Linked DNA regions of Homo sapiens: region 1 is linked to region 2. Evidence: fine-mapped expression QTL. A gene starts in region 2. The other region holds a variant in brackets. All regions are shown on one strand. Distances are from middle to middle.

Region 1 (8,456 bases), 21 kb after region 2:
GGAAGAATTGTTGTTCCTGATTCTTCTCCTTCCCCTTTTCTTCTCCATGACAAGCCTGTGCTCAGAAATAACTTCTAGTCACCCAGATAGCTGTAGAAACGTATCATGCATGCTGCCTGAAAGACCTGTTCATTCTTAAAACCACAGATCATATATTACCTCCTCCAAGAGCCTTTTCCTAATTGCCCAGGAAGACTTAATTCTTCCTTTTTCTGTGAAAGAACAGAGAAAAATGAAAATGTTTCTACGATTTCATTCATCCATTCAACAATTTAGCAACTACTCTGTTACAAATGTGTGTCGAGATGATATTTCATTAAGAAAACATGGAAATAGGCCAGGCACTGTGGCTCACGCCTATAATCCTAATCCCAGCATTTGGGGAGGCTGAGGCAGGCAAATTGCTTGAGCCCAGGAGTTCAAGACCAGCCGGGGGCAACATGGTGAAACCCCATCTTTACAAAAAAATAAGAGAAAGAAAGGAAAGAAGAAAGAAAAAGAAAGAAAGAAAGAAAGAAAGAAAGAAAGAAAGAAAGAAAGAAAGAAAGAAAGAAAGAAAGGGAGGGAGGAAGGAAAAGGAAAGAAAGAGGGAGGGAGGGAGGGAGGGAAGGAAGGGAAGAAAGGGAAGGAAGGAGAAGGAAAGCCAGGTGTGGTGGTGCATGCCTATAGTCCCAGCTACCCTGTGGTGGGGGGATCACCTGTGCCCAGGAGTTGGAGGCTGCAGTGAACCGTGATCACACCACTGCACTCCAGCCTGGGTGACAGAGTGAGACCCTGTCTCAAAAAAAAAAAAAAAAAAAAAAGAAAAGAAAAGAAAAGAAAAAGGAAAACAAGGAAATGTAAAGGGAGAAACACACTTGAGGGATGATGTCAGGTGAGAACATGTTGAGCTTGAGTTGCCTGCAAACCCCCAAGATACAGCAGGTCTGGAGAGGAGATGCAGAATCCAGACTGAAGATGTAGTGGGGAACCATCAGCAAAAGCAGGCCTGGGCAGAACCAGGTATACAATTTGTGGGGCCTGATAAAAAATAAAAATTTGGTGGCCTTTGTTCAAAGAGCAGGAAAATTGCCATTAAAATGACTAAAGATACTAAGGTCCTAAAATATAAACTATTCCCTTTCCTCCAAGATCTCTCTTTCTCTCTCAACATGTCATGGTGAGTTTTTAATTCACTATTTAATATTGCTCTAAATAAAGATTTTAAATTACTGGCATGAATTTTACTGTTCATCTTTATATTGTGCAATGCCAGTTCTAGATGTAAATATTAGAACATTGAGCTCCTGTCAGAATCACTGACATCACACCATTCATATTTTATGGCTTGACCCCGGATGGTGTCTCAAGCTGGTCAGAAGAAATGAACACAAGCCAGACTCAGAGAAGCTAAAAGGAGAAAGAAAAGGTTCTCACAGGCACAGAGTGGCCCAAAGGATCCAAAAATACGCGTAGGGTAAGTTCAGACTCTCCCAGATGCTCTGGTTGCTGCCGTGGGACTTGGAAGTTCCATATGCCCTTGAGCCTGACAGCTGCCATGTTCCCCCTCTCACCAGCTCGCATGCACCACACCTCAGTGAGGGGCTGGGAAGTCAAGTCAGGCATCTCCACTTTCCAAGAGTCAGTTGTCCCAGCCCATAGCAGATGGGCAATCCCAAGGATATTGCAACCTCTGCATCAAGATGTGCTAGGGACTTGGATCACAGGGGGTAACAGGCTGACCCTCAACAAGTCATACACTTTTTTTTTTTTTTTTTTGAGACAGAGTCTCACTCTGTCACCCAGGCTGGAGTGCAGTGGGGTGATCTCAGCTCACTGCAACCTCTACCTCCCAGGTTCAAGCAATTCTCTTGCTCAGCCTCCCGAGTAGCTGGGACTACAGGCACACGCCACCATGCCTGGCTAATTTTTGTATTTTTGGTAGAGAATTTTGTATTTTTGGTTTCTCCATGTTGGCCAGGGTGGGCTCAAACTCCTGACCTCAGGTGATCCGCCCACCTTAGCCTCCAAAAGTGCTGGGATTACAGGCATGAGCCACTGTATCCAGCCTCATGCACTCAGGCTAGGGTGAGGACAGCCACTGTTGCCAGGCCTTGACTAGAGATGCAGGTGCAAGGACCCCAACCCTTCTTACACCTGCACTCAGCTTCCTGCCAGGGTGGAGGATAATGGCAGTCTTGGGGGGAAGGGTTAGAGGAGGAGAGTGGCAGGACCTGGGTCGGGGAAGGTTGAAGGAACAGGTGGCCAAGAACTCTTCTCAGGCTGAGAAGTGAGAAGAAGGGCAGTGAGAAGGACAGCGCTTGAGCTGAAATGCTAAGTCCCTGGCACATGCTCGTTATCCCATCGTATTTCACTCACAAAACATAAATTCAGAGATAACGTAAGAATTTCAAGATAGCAGCTGCAGAGCACTAACCCATGAGCATGGAGCCCTTCTGAATGTGGGGCTCAGGGCAACTGCACTGACTGCAAGCCCAGGAAGCTAGCCCTGGGTCTACAACATTTCCCACGAGGAGGAGAAAATAGAAGGGGACTAAGAAGGAACACAAGGAGCCTCAATATGATTGAGGTAGGTATGGGGGCCAGGGGAACAGCAGAAAAATGGGCAGAAACAAATAGGCAGAACCTATAAAGAACCAGGCCCAGAGGGCAAGAGAACCATAGACTCATCTACAGTACAGTCTTCTCCTCGGAGGTCTACAGTGATGTCTACTTTCCCTACAAGCATTAAACGAAAATTGAGCCAATAGTTAGAAATTAGAGGCTGGGTGCAGTGGCTCACACCTGTAATCCCAGGACTTTGGGAGGCCAAGGCAGGCAGATTGCCTGAGGTCAGGAGTTTGAGACCATCCTGGCCAACATGGTAAGACCTCGTCTCTACTAAAAATACAAAAATTGGCTGGGCATGATGGTGGGCACATGTAATCCCAGCTACTCAGGAGGCTGAGGCAGGAGAATCACTTGAACCCAGGAGGCGGAGGTTGCAGTGAGCTGAGGTCACACCACTGCACTCCAGCCTGGGCGACAGAGTATAACTCAGTCAAAAAGAAAGAAAGAAAGAGAGGAAGAGAGAAAGAGAAAGAAAGAAGAATTATAAACATTCTCATAAAAACCAAGTTTTCTTTAAAAAAAAAAATCAAAATATTTATCAATGCGGTGTCCACATTCCTCCATGACCAAAATCAACCAGAGACAGCAGCAGCTGCTACCTTAGAAGGGACACATGCCCACAGTTGGACAGGCTTCCTGTGACTCACCCTACGCAATACCAAACCCAGCTTCACCTGTGTAGACTGCAGCCAGCCTATGGGCATGTGAGTTTGGAGCCTCGGGTCTGCATTGCATGTGCAATGCCGCAGAAGGTCAACCAGGAGGAGACCTAAAAATAGGTCATTGGATCTGGCAAGGAGGAAAGCATTGGTGATCTTAATGAGAACAATCTGAATGGAGTTTTGGGATGGAAGCCAGATGGCAGTGGGCGGATAAGTGAATGGGAGGTGATGAAGTTGAGCCAGCAAGGGTAGAGACTAATTTTTTCAGCATTTTTTTTTTGACAGAAAGGGCGG[G/CG]GGGGTGATGGAAAAGGAGATTGAACCCACCCTGCTATCCCTATGCCTCCCTCATGCTCCTTCCCACACATCTTCTTTAACTAAATAAAGAAGGAAAGTAACATGAAATGAAGCAAGAGCTCTGTTTGAAATTTTACACATTAGAAAAAAATCGATTCAAGACCAGAAGTGGAAATTAACTAGGCTTTTACTATGTCCTATTATAAGTATCATACTCAGAGATCTCAATCATAAGTATTTATTACTGTTGGAATTGGTGGTTAGAAAAATAAAGTTAGGCTGCTTGAGACTAATTCATAGGTTTTAATTTTTTAAAGCCGCTTTAAAATTTTTATCCTATGACGACATCGTTTTTATGGCAAGTTTAAGGAAAAAAAAACCCTTTTTGTTTATATTGTGGAAAGAAAGCAGAGTTGCACAGTTTAGGAGCTATTCTGAAAACCCAGGAAACTATTTGACAGCCCTATGCATGTTTCAAAATAGCAGGTAAACTACTTAAATCCTAAGATGTTGTATAGAATAAGCAACATTCCTCCATTCGATTGTTGAATAAACGAATCTTAAAATAAATGATGACATCTGTTTCCACCTACTGCACTGTTGTTTGGATGTTTCGTGGGCTTGTTTGTTCATATAGAATGTAATTTGGAAGGCTGATATTTTATTATGAACATATTTAGGTTGGGGTTTAACAGGCTCTGCATTTTATGAAGGATCTAACTTGGTCAAATATTCCCTATCCCAAAAGTGGAACTTACCAGAATTATCAGGCCATAAGGCCTCTTGCTTGGTGCTACTGGAAATGCTCTTTGATTTGTTAACAGATTCTGAAAGGCGATTTAGATCAGGTTTTGGAATCCTTGCGAAGTAATCAGATTTTAACTTTGACTTCCTCCAGTCTGACAAAGTACAGGAAGTCTGCTCCCTCCCGCTGTGGCCTACTCTCACCAACTGTTTTGAATGTGTTCTGCAGACTTCACCAGGGGTTCAGGAGATATGGAGCTTTTAACATATATACTGTGTTGGTGTGATTTTATGACTTCTAGTGGATGTCAAGTATGTAAGAACACAAGCGATGCTTTTTTTTTAAAGGGAGAAAATTGTATAATTCTTTTATTCCCGTTTTTCATGAAGTCATATATGTCAGCCAGCCTTTGCTTAATAAACTGCTAGATGTCTTTAATAAAAAACTTTGAGCTGGTGTCTACAACTTTAAGTACCAACCTTTGACACTAATAAATACTTTCAGCCTCTACAGTAAGCTGATACTGGTCACACAGACTGTGTCTCTCTGAAATCCAAACTTGCAAGTCAGTGAGCCAGCTTCGTATACATACGTCCAACAACTGGCCCATTCTACACTCAGATGCAGGTGGTATCGGAAGTTGCATGGGTGAGTAGGCTGAGGGTATGAGGAGGGAAGGACTTGGTGGCAAACAGAGGAAATGGATGGGAAAGGGGCCAAGAGAATGGGAAAATGAGCCATTCTCATTGCCTTGTTTCTTATAATTCAACCACTCTTTAGCCACAAGAAATATAGATTCTGTCCCCACTTAATCATTGAAACTGTTATCTGCAAACCCAGTGGATTTTTCTTCAACCTTTATTCTCCTTAACACCTTGCAGAATGTGACAGTCATTTTTTAGGGGAAAAAATGTCCAATTTTTTTATAAAATCTCCTTCTCTCTGGGCTTATGTAGCACCAACTGTCTTGGTCCTCCTGCTATCAATACTTACCATCCTCCTTTCTAACCAGCCTTTCTCTTACCTCCAACATTTCATCCTTCCCAGACTCACCCGCACCCCACATGCATCCTTGTAGGTCTGGCTTCTCTACTCTTGCCCTTAGTGATCTCATCCGGTGTCCTGTTTTTGCTTGTCTCCTCCATACAGATGATCGCTAAATCATGTTATGTAGCCTCAGCTTCTTTGCCCAGTTATAGATCAATATCAATGACTAGTGAAAAGAGCTAAGAGATTGGAATTTAAATCAAATGATATCACATATGTGAAAACTCCAAGTGCTATACAGATGCCAAATATTATTCTCTGCCTTCCACAGCTTTCAAGCCACTTTCATTCTTCCTGATATCTTCCTGACATCTCCTAGGGGCCCTACCTTCCAGTTAAACAGGGGGAAAATTGTGGTGCCATCTTTGATTTTCCTCTCTCATTCATCTCATCCAACCAGTGCCTCTAAATACTACATATTTGCTAGTCTATTGCATCTTTCTTTTTTTTCCAACTCATCACACTCACCACTAAGCAAAATGGTCTTCTCCATGCCCATCTCCCATTATGGCACTTGACTCAGGCCTCAGTGAATCTCTATTGCTTACCAAAACCAGTACAAACTTTTCCACCCAGTATTGGAGCTTCTCCATTATATAGACCTTTTATGCCTCTGTGGTTTAGTGACTTGCCACTCTCCTATTCATTCACTATGCCCTAACCAAATAGGTTGATTTTCACTCTCCACAACCCCTCCAAACATTCCCATTCTGGACACTTGCTTGGGGCAGTCTCTCCAATGGAATGCCTTTCTGTCTTCTCCCGCTATCCTGTCTTCAAGGCAATATGGGTCTGGGTCCAGGCTCGAAAATAGACTCCCACTCTAGATGTTTCAAACACAGGGAATTTGATACAGTGAATTGATTTCCAAGGTGCTGGGAGGTTTGGAAGAGTAAATGGAAGAAACAGAGGGGTTAAAGGAGCAAGAAAAGAAGCCATAGCTAAAATTCCTTGGGCTGAAGTCCCTACATTCACACTTGCTGCTGTGAGGCTTGCCAGTTCTGGAGAGACAAAGGGACATGGCTGGAACTGCTGGAAAGCTGCTGCCTCTGCCTGGGCTGCTGCAATCTGGAATTCTCCTCCTCCCTGCAACCCCTGCTGCTGCTCCAGCAACTTCCAGCAGTCTTCACTCTCAAAACTAGAGCAGGACTCTTCTCTCTGCTGCTGCCTTTGGATTTTCCTCTGGACCCAGCTGGCAAGGGAGCCTAGGAAATGTAGTTTTCAGACACCTGTTCGTACCTCTACAGAGCATAATATAGAAAGGCAGCTGGGGGTGCAGGACAACAGCTCAAAAGCTGGACAAGGGCCCAGTACAAACACTACATATTCCCTGAAGTGTTTCTTGATTCCCACCTCCCTCTGCCCCTCCAACACCATCAGCTTCAAAAGACTTCTCCCTCTTCTCAATTTTGTCCATGGGTCTCTTTGAATTCATTTAAAATACATTTGTTGAGGAACCCCTCTGTGCCAGGCACTGTGCTAGAAGCTGGAAATACAACTATGAGTAAGACAGACTTGGCTGCCATTCTTCTAGAACTTCATGGAGTTTAAAGTCTAGTTGAGGAGACGTACAATTAAATAAGCAATTACAATGTAGCTTGATGAGCATTAAGACAGGGGAGGTCGAAGTGTCAGGGCACATAAGAATGACGTTTAAACCAAACTGGAAGGGTCAGGAAGTGCTTCCAGAGGAAGCCAAAGTCTGAAGCCAAAGAGGCAAGGGCCAGGGAGAAATGCTCTTGATAGAAACAAAATCATGTCCAAAGGCCCAGAAGTGATAGAGAGAGAGAGAGAGAGAGAGAGAGAGAGAGCACTTCACATGCAAGAACCAGAATGCATGTGGTATAGGCAGCATACGTATTTTGAAGGGGAGAACAGGAAAGAAGAGAATGGGGAGAGATAATGGCTAGGGAAGAAAATAGGCATCACAGAACACAAGCCTGGTGAGCCACATCAAAGTTTGAACTTTACCCTAAGGACAATGGGAAGCCATTGAAGGTTTATAGTAGAAACGTGACATGATCAGGTTTTCATTTAGGAAGTTCATGTTGACTTCAGGGCAAAGAATAGGGTGAAGGGAGGCAGGGCAACTATTTAGGAAGGTGCCAGAGAAATCAAGAATAGTGGCTGAGACTAGGTTATGGCAATGGAAAGAAATGGTAGATTCGAGAGGTGTTCAGGAAGGAGAGTGGATGTGTGCACCTGGGAAACGGAGTCAAGGATGGCTCCTACGATTCTGCCTTGCCTTTATGAACTGCATGAACAGAAGTGACACTGCTGAGATCGAAAATGTAGAAGGGTGAGCTTTTGGAAGTGTACTCATTTCTTATTGCTGCTGTAACAAATTATCACAAACTTAGTGACTTAACAGAAATTTATTATCTTATAGGTCTGGATGTCAGCTGTCCATGTGGGTCTCACTGGGCTAAAATCAAGGTGTTGGAATGGCTGCTTCCTTCTGCAGGCTCTAGGGGAGAATCCATTTCCTTGTGTTCTCCGGCTTCTACAGGCTACCTGCATTCCTTGGCTCATGGCCCCTTCCTCCATCTTCAAAGCCAGTAGAGCTGCATCTTCTAAACTCTCTCTATGATTCTGACACTCCTGCCTCCCTCTTATAAGGACACAGGTGATTACATTGGATTCACTCACATAATCCAGGATTATCTTCCCATCAAGATCCTTAACTTATTCACATTTGCCAAGTAAGTCCCTTTTGCCACATAAGACAACATATTCACAAATTTCAGTGATTAAGAGGTGGACATCTTTGGAGGCCATTATTCTGCCTACCACAGGGAGTAAGGGCTAAGGGCTCAAATATCAGTTCAGTTCTACACACATAGAGCTTTGTGAATATGGCACATCCAGGTGGTGATGCTGAGTAGAAAGCATGATAGCTGGGTCTGAACCTTGGGAGCGGGATTTGCTTGACCATCTAAATGTGAGCATCATCAAAGTATAGATGGAATTGAAAACATGAACGTAGATGGGGTCTCCCTGGCAAAATAGTTAAGAGTGAAAAGAAAAGAGGAAAAACCTTGAGAAACATCATCCCTCAATGGATGAGGAGAGAATCCTATGAAGAAGAATGAAAACGA
Region 2 (9,029 bases):
AAACATGTTTTTATATATGTTATTTCTAATAACATGCCAAATCAGTGAAATGGTATTACAGTTAAGATAAAACCTTCACATAGGCACTAAAGAATGTTACTTTAATTCATTCTTTAAAAGGATAGAGGCAAATATTTTCAGTTAAAATTTGTTCCCAAAAATTCTGAAACAATTCCGTAAGAAATAATGTAATGTTTCAATTATTCGGCATTTTTTTGTTTGTTTGTTTCCCTTTCATAAGCTATTTCTCAGGGACCCTATCTGGATGAGATCGGTCACTCCCTACCAGGATCAATTCATCAACTCTAAATCTGTTAGACAAAGAAGGAAAAAAAAAACTATTGTTTTGAGTTATTAAAGCACTGCTTTAGAATACAATCACCAAGCTCTCAGTCACCTATCCCTAACTTGCTTTAAATTTCAATCACTTTCAAAGTAAGTGCCCTAAATATATAAGCGCTGTATATGTAATTTAAAACCCTTACTATATAATGTTATGAATATTGGTTCTGTCTCACCAAAAACATTTGCACACTGAATTCTGAAAAGGTAATATTTAAAAAGGAAAAGAAAATATAAACCTGTATTCATTATGACAATGGGTCTGTTTATTTGGATGATTTGTATAGTTTTGAGCAATAACAGTTTATTTGAGCAAATAAACACAGGATAATTTAAAGGCAATTTACTCTTAAAGTACACTAAATCCCTAAAGTAAAACACTTGAGAGGCAAGCTGCAGTGAAAAAGAATGTTTTATACATTTTATTAGTCAAAGGCTAACTCTTAGGGAGCTTCTAAAGGTAAGTATTAAAAATGCCAATCTCGAGAAGAAAACAGAAAAGTGATTTTGGCTGTCATTTTGCAGAGCTATTGAGAATACTCACAGCTAAATCACAACTTTAATCAGGAGACAAAGAGACCAATTCTTCTCTCAGAATGCTTTCAAAAATTTTCAATTTTCAAAATTCACGTGACGTTTAGTTCTCTTATTACTGATGCTCTACTCCATCTCTATCCATTAACGCTGCCTACAATATGATACCACACCACAGTATTTTGTAAATTCAGTCTACGGTTTTACTTCCTGAAGTGTACACTAATGCTAATAAATTAGGTTCTAGGCTTTGCATAACATTTACAAATAGAACCATAAAAGAAAGCACTATTCATACACTCTTAAGAATGGGAAAGAGCCCTATAGAGGCCATATAGTTCAAAGAAATTTTCAATATTTTCTAACTTCATCATAGATTTTCAGTTTACCTTTACCAAGATATGGGTGCTATTGACTGTATTTACATAAACTTATTAAAATAACAATTTAATTTGTATATTGTGTAGTTTTATGATTTAAACTTTAAGTGGAAACGTTTAACTTGTTAAAAATCAATATTCTGACAAAAGGAAAGTAAAAGAACGTTAGAAATAATTCCAGGGTATTCTTCTAGCAAACTTATTTTAAAGCCCTATGGCACAAACTCATTTTGTGTGATACATCGGATTTTTTTCCAATAAGAATCACCTTTTTCCCCCATGCCTTAAATAAGTATAGAGAAATTTAAGTCTTAAAAGGGATTGTAAATGGCTTATTAAAATTCCATCTGACCAATTTTCTTGATGTGATCTACACAGTATAAAATATACTTATTAGCAGTCAATAAATACTAAATTTTCTGAATTGCTTGCCTTTTTACCAATTACTTTTTCACAGAGCATTAGCCAATTATGTATTAACCACATTTTTCTGCTCGAGAAACCTAGAACCACTTATACCTTCTAGAAGCCTAAATATTCCTGCTCCTTCCCTTCCTGCATGAGGCATTAAATCTTCAAATTATAGTCTTATTTATCAACTTTCCTAATAATCACTATTCTTCACTATACTGTTACTTGCCACATTTTTATTTGGAGAATAAATACTATTCAAGCATAAAGCTGTCTGACCTATCTTCTCACTCAAACTGTACTATGCTCCTAATACTGATTATTCTATAATCACTTTATCCCAGTTACCCAATTGGTAGGTTTGATGTATCAAGTTCCATTTAATAGGGCTTGATATGCTTCAGGGTAAAGTTAAACATGCTGACCATTATGTTCTATACTCTACATCCTCCAAAGCTTTTAAAGTTTACCAACATCCTTCTTCTCTCTAGAATAGTAAATATCCTATCATAGAAATCAGAGAAACTGCTTGGCTTTAAAGAATACAGTTCCTGAGCACTTGTCAGAGAAGCTGTTAGTAACTTCCAGACGCCCGCAGGACTATCATTTTGGTTAAATTAATCACGGGTCATCTTCTGCCACTTTAAACTTTTTAGTCTTACAATTATTGTAGGAAATCTACAGATCTACTTTAAAAATAAGTGAAATACTAAAAAAAAAAAAAAAAACCATTATTTTAGCTCCATTACTTTTCCCAAAGAAATCATTTCAGGGTCCTTATATAATAACTTTTACTTAAACCACAACTGATCAGTTGTACATAACACCGGAAGGCTTTAAAAAGGATACAATTCTGCACTTAACCTTACAAAACACGTTTCCAAGTTTTCAATTATGAGATCGTTCTATATATTAAAAAAAAGGTGCTAGTGCAGTCTATCAGAACTGTGCTGCCAGCTGCAAGCCCCGAGTATGCTGCACTTTGCAAATTTTAGGTATAATTTCTGGTTACCTGCTGAGGTTTCTACACCCTTTGTCACCCAGTGATGCTCCCACCACCAAACACTTTCCATCACCACTTAAAACGGCCTCCTTCCACCCCGCAAAAAATGCACTGTAAACTTAGGCATTTCTGCATACTAACACGGAACCACTAATATCACTAGGTATTATGGCTCTCAAAGAATCCCCTTTAGCAGGCTCCCCTGGGACGCTGTGCTCAAGCGGAGCTTTGAACCGGTGAGACTCGCTGCCAGCTGCCTTTGCAAAAGCAGCACCAGAGGTAGACTCAATACCGCAATGCTGCTGCTGACTTTTTCTAGCAGCCTCAAAAAAAAAAAAAAAAAAAAAATCAGCCCAGTCCCCTGCAGACCCTGCTGGCACTTCTGCAGCACGAAAGAGAAACCACCGCATTGCTCAGCTTGGAAGATCGGAGAGCCCGACTGAAGGGAGGGGAATCAGTGCCGTCGAGAGGCTCGGCGAGGGCGGGGTGTCGGGGTGAAAAGGAAAGACGTCCGGAGTGCAGGGGACCGCGACGAAGCAGCAGGCAGGGCTCCGCATCGCGCCCTGGCCGGAGCCGCGGAATAGCGGACGTCCGGCGGAGATGCTGACCTCTGCACGGGTTGGGGGTCCCATCGCTGCCGGCCGAGCCCCGCCCGCCGCCCCCCGGCCCCTCACCTGTCATGAGCGCCGGGCTATCGCCGGCCGCCGCGGCGGGAGAGGAGGCGGCAGTTGCGGCAGAGCCAGTCGCCCGCCGCCCGCGGAGGTGCCGGGGCACAAGCTCGCATCCGTCCGCCGCTCCGGCTACCAGCAGCCCGAGCACCAGCAACGCAGCCCAGCGCCGCCGCCGCAGCAGCCAGCCCCACGCTGGGCCAGGAGTCGAGGCGGGATGAAGGCGCCGAGGAGAAGCCGGGTGAAAGCGCAGCGGCGCCCCGGCCGCCTGCAGCTCGCCGGCTCCGCGAGGCGCCACCACCGCCGCCGGCGACTCCTCCGGCCGCCCCCGCCGCCTCAGACACGGGCTCCCGCCGGGCGCCAGCCTGGTCCCATCGGCACCGGCGGCCTCCGGAGCTCTGATCCCGGCTGCGTTCATTGGTTCCGGTTATTTAAAAAAAAAAAAAAAAAAGGTGGGGGGTAGAAAGGTACGGCGTCTTCAGGCGGTGCACGACACCCGCGCTGCTGCTGCGGCGAGACCGGGATCCGCTGCTCTGGCGCCGCCAAACACCAACCCCAGCTCCCGCGCCGCCGCCGCCGCGGCGCATCCCCCCGCCCCCTCCGGCCCGCGCTGGTCGTAGTACCACGCTCCGCCGGGACGCCTCCCTCCCCTCGCACATTCGCTCGCATACCAATCCCCCGCCTCCCTCAGGCTCTCCACGGCGCAGGCGCGGCGCTGCTGTACTGCGCGTGCGCGGCATCCCAGCCCCGCCCCGGAGGCGTTCCTAGACGGACGGTAGTACCGTGGGGCGGCTGATAACGCTTTAGCGAGCCGCGAAGATAGGAGGCGGGGAAGAAGGGGGACGTGTACCTCTCCCTCATTCACGGTACCACCGCGAGGGGGAGTGGGGGGCTACAAGGGGACGGAGAGAAGAGTCCAGACGTCCCACATCCTGAGGGCGAGTTTCAGCCTCGTAGAGGGCAGCGAAAGTAATTGCATGGATCAGGAAAATCTTGCAATCGGAAAACAGCAGCGTCCCCGTAATTTCAATATAGGTGGGGCTTACAAGTGGCTGGCTGTTTAGACGCGGTTAGCATAGCTTAGCGTTTTATTTACTTGCCAAACATTTCACAAAGCGCGTGCTATGTGTGAGTGTACCAGGCATTGCTCTAACCGTTTTACACATTTACATGCTATAACTCCAAAATTATCGTTACCCCCTTTTACGAATGAAGAGACTAAGACCTAGAAATGTGAAGTAAGTTGTCCCCAATATCCCACAGCTAATTCATGGGAAATGAGCGAGATTTAGCAGCCACTGAAAAGGCCTATTTAAGAGAATTTACTTTAGCCTCTGACTCTCCTAGGTACATTTACCTGAACTCATCACCTTCCCACCCCCATCCCATCGACTCTGTGCTGTATCCTGAACCGGCTGACAGAACAATGATGTAGACTTGACTTGTTTTCGCCAACCTGGAATGAAGCAAAGCTCTTGTGCACCCAAGATCTGCTCTCTGTTGTAAATCCTGTTCAGACCTGGTCTAATTGGTTTGAATAAATAAAGAACCGGAATCTTTCTCATCCAAACTAGTTGCCAGCATATTTTTAAGGCCACCTCCCTTCAAATTTAAAAGGAAGTGTTGAATGTACTGTCACTATAAATTAAAAGCCCTGGAAATTCACACGCAAGGAGGCATTCTTTCTCCCAGGGGCACAAAATTGTTTAAAATTTGCAGATAGGGTTATTAAACACGAAGATCCTTTTGCTATTGGGTTTTGTTGGTTTCATTCTGCTTATTGGTTTGTTTGCTTGCTTTCTCAAGCCAAGAAGATACTCAAATTACATTCTCCTAAAGTATTTCTTAGGTAGCCTGGCCAAGATAACCACAAATATCGTTTATTGTGGAAGGGCAGATGCACACTTTAGAAAAGAATCAAGGATGTCTTTGAGGCTAAGTCAATCTATCAACAGTTATTTCTCAGCAGACTTCTTGTGGGCATAGTGTTCAGGTGGCAATTCTTTATAGGGCAACCGGGAGATTATATTTCCCCTGCTGAAAGGCACAGCGATGAAGTCACACCAGAGTGCTGAGTGCCCACCAGAGAAGATAATTCTGCTAGGGGACCAGAACAATATAAATAACAAGCTTGTTCCTGCTCTCCAGGAGGCATTTCATTTATTAAATGTTTACTGAGTACCTAGTATGTGCCAGGCAGAGTACTGAGTGGTGAGGGTTAGGCAAGAGAGACACTTGAAAAAGGCAATTAAGTCAGCAGTCAGGGCTATGAGATAAACAGCACAGTCCCATGACTAAGGCATCTTACAATCTTTTTAAGGAGATAAAATGTACACCCATTAAACAATTAGAGGCTAATACAAAGTAGTAATCAGTTGCTAAATGGTGTAGTGCAAACTGTTACAGTAGTAACAGTATAAAACCACGAACAAATTAACAAATCACAGGGGCCAGGATTCTTTAAACAAAGATGATTTAGTATTTTTTTTTCTTCTTTTAAAGATAGGGAGGGTATTGACATTGAGAGTGTATTGGACTGGAGTTTTAAGTGTTTATTCCTCTCACTACTGGAACCGGAAAGGAACTAGGGATCCGGCAAGCACTCAAAAGACCAAGGCCAGGAAGGCCAGGGGCCAGGAATAAACCCTCCACCGCAGATCATCTTTGCCACAGATATAGAACTTTCCAGCTGTTAAATGAATAGCCGGAATGAACCTTGCTGAACAGAGAGAGGTACGTGTCACTGTGCATCACAGCATAAACCTAAGAACAGAAAGGAGAAAATCCATTCCTTGGCAAGAAAAGCCCAACCCTAGAATTATATATGCTTCTATTTGCAAGCCAAACATAAACACAAGACTCCAAATGAGGCAATCGCTTACCTTTCTCCCCAGGTTTCCTTTCCCACCTCCACGCTTTTGTTTTCCCTTTCCCTTCCCTTGTTCTCACCACCCCAAAGCTTTCTCTCCTTCCCTGTCGCCAAATCCCATTCAAAAGCTACCCTGAGGCCCTTTTCCTTGGCACTTACCCGACTCCTACAGCCAGCCTATACCTCTCAATGTCCAAACCTCATCATATGCCTTTTTTTTTTTTCAGAACGTCTTCACTGTCCCATTTTCACCAAATCATGACTTCAAACACCTGATGGGCAGCATTGAGCTCTAGAATCAGGCAAACCTGAAAGAAATAGCAATTCCACCACTTTTCAGCTGTGTTACGTGCAGACAGGTTAATCTGTCCTCAGTTTCCCCACTTTTAAATTGGGGATCCAACCATGCCCGCCCCACAAGGTTGTTAGCGGCGGCGGGAGAATAAACAGGGAAAGCCCTTGCGCGGAGCCCGGCACACAGGTGCGTTGCCATCCCTTGGGGAGAACTGGCTCTGGGCGTGCATTCTAAGCGTGTTCTTGGCTTAGGATAAACGCATCGCACTTTGCCCATGTTGTTTGATTGCATTTTCTTGCAAATCCCAAACTACTGGGCGCGCCCTGCACAGAGGCACAGCAGGATCCGTGCACCGGCTCCTCCCCATCCCAGAGGCAAGCCTGCCCTTCCCAAATGTCGGGCTCCCTATCTCCCTCTTCTCCCCTCGCTCCCGCACAGCCCACAGCGCGCCGCCAGCTCGGACTCGGAGAACCGGTTCCCGACTGGCGGGCGCGGCAGGGCGCCTGCGCCACCGCAGCCCCGCGCATGCCCGCTGCCTCCTGCCGGCTTCCCCCAGGTGCGCGAGTTCTCAAGCTGCTGGGTTCCGGGACGCCGCGCGCCGCTGCCCGCCCGGCTTCCGGCTCCCACTCTGTGGGCGGGGCGCCCGGCAGCCGCGAGATGGCGTCACCGCGTGGGCGGGCGCGGCGGGCTGTCAGTGGGGAGGGTGGTGGACGTGGGGCGGTAGTAGGGGTGGAGGTATAGAAGTGGGGAATTCCGGCGCCTCGCCCTCCCACTGATCTTCTCCTTCCCGTCTTTGACTTCCCTGCGTGGCCCTGGAATGTCGGGACAGACCCAGCAGGGTGGTCCAGCCTGGTTCGCTTGCTCTTGATGGTGAAGCCCCTCAGAGAGCTGCCTTCGGTGGAAACGCTGTTAGGTATCGAGTTTTCCCGCTGACTCTCGACAAACGCTAACAAGGGACTCGAGGTGCTGAGAACTTTGGAAACACCTCTAAAGTGATATAGACAATGTGATGGCTCCATTCGATCAATGAAGCCCTAGCATAAAAATGGGGTCCTCAAATTGTTTAATAAAGCACTAGGAATAGAAGTGACACCGTGGAAGTAACTCATTAGCAAGACCCTTCCTCCCTAAACCCAATAAAACATGAGATAGTCCTCAAGTGGTGTAGTGAAGGTGGAAAATTTTATTGCTGCTTTCTCTGGGAGCAGAGGAAGGAAGTCTTTTTAAGTGTCTTGCATCCAGGATAGGGAGTTAAAAACTCTAGATTTAACTAACATAGTTTTTTAAAAGCCGCTCAACAGAAGCGAGTTAACTTTGCCCGCTAAAGCCCGGTGCAATCAGAGGGCGTGTGGGGTGAGTCGTTTATATTATTAAATAGGATGTGTTTGCTCTATACTGCTTAATTTGAGGTGTTACATGAATATTATTGATCACATGATAACTGACAGATGCTGAAGCAGCAGGAATGTTGACATTTTCCACAAAAAGAGGACTAGAATTGTGATGGAGCTAAAGTAAAGATCATAACAATTGAAAATGGTGAGAAAATGATGGCTATTATCAAAAAGACAAATAAGTGTTGATGAGGATGTGGAGAAAAGGAAACCCTGGTATACTGTTAGTGGAAATGTAAATTAGTATACCCATTTTGGAAAGTAGTATGGAGGTTCCTAAAAAACTAGGAATAGAATTATCATATGATCCAGCAATCCCACTTCTGAGTATATATCCAAAGGAATGGAAATCAGTATGTCAATGAGATATCTGCACTCTCATGTTCATTTCAGCATTATTTACAATAGCCAAGATATGGAAGCAAACTAAATGTCCATCAACAGATGAATGGATAAGGAAAATAGGGTATATATACACACAGTGGAATACTATAGAGCCTTAAAAAAGAAGGAAATTCTTCATTCACTGCAACATGGGTGGAACTGGAGGACATTAGGCTAAGTGAAATAAGCCAGGCGTAGAAAAACAAACATTGTATGACCCCACATATGTGGAATCTAAAAAAAAGTTCATCTCATAGAAACAGTATAAAGGTGATTACCAGAGGCTGGTAAGTGTGAATGGGGCGAGGGATGGGGAAAGGGAAGATGCTGACCAAAGGGTATAAGGTTACTGTTAGACTGGAGGAATATGTTTGAGTGATCTATTGTACTTCACAATAACCACAGTTAATGTCTATTTCAAAATTGCTAAAAAGATAGATTTTTAACATTGTCACTACAAAAAAGGTTAAGTCAGTGAGATAATAGATATGTTAGCTCAGTTGAATTGTTCTACAATGTACATATAGCTCAAAACATTGTACTCCATAAATATACACAATATTTGTCAATTAAAAATTAATTTTAAAAACATTCATAATGTCTGTGAATTATGAGGCAGGAAGCTGCCAAGGGGTTCCCTACAGCACTTGAAGAGATTATCTAAAAAGGAATTACCTACTTTCAATCTTAAAGTATACAAAACACCTACTTTAGAAAAAGATGCCACAGAAACATATATCAGCAAGGAG

Evidence for each region. PIP is the estimated chance that this variant, and not a neighbour inherited with it, causes the effect.
Region 1: its variant is fine-mapped to the expression of STIM2-AS1 in whole blood (TOPMed, PIP above 0.99).

What each region holds. Positions count from the first base shown.
Region 1 is chr4:26,834,688-26,843,143 of GRCh38, reverse strand. It overlaps a transcript of TBC1D19 not described here. Among named protein-coding and RNA genes, the nearest start is that of STIM2-AS1, 22 kb to the left of the region's middle. The variant G/CG (reference allele first, on the strand shown) is at 3,567.
Region 2 is chr4:26,855,685-26,864,713 of GRCh38, reverse strand. STIM2-AS1 (STIM2 antisense RNA 1) reads left to right here and starts at 4,115. Exons shown (of 2, transcript NR_134674.1): 1 at 4,115-4,204; 2 at 4,686-5,090. STIM2 (stromal interaction molecule 2) reads right to left here and starts at 3,873. Exons shown (of 12, transcript NM_020860.4): 1 at 3,345-3,873. The coding sequence starts at 3,495. It also overlaps a transcript of TBC1D19 not described here. RefSeq lists silencers at 3,177-3,746, 3,757-4,126, 6,917-6,966, 6,987-7,276 and enhancers at 4,217-4,316, 7,397-7,496.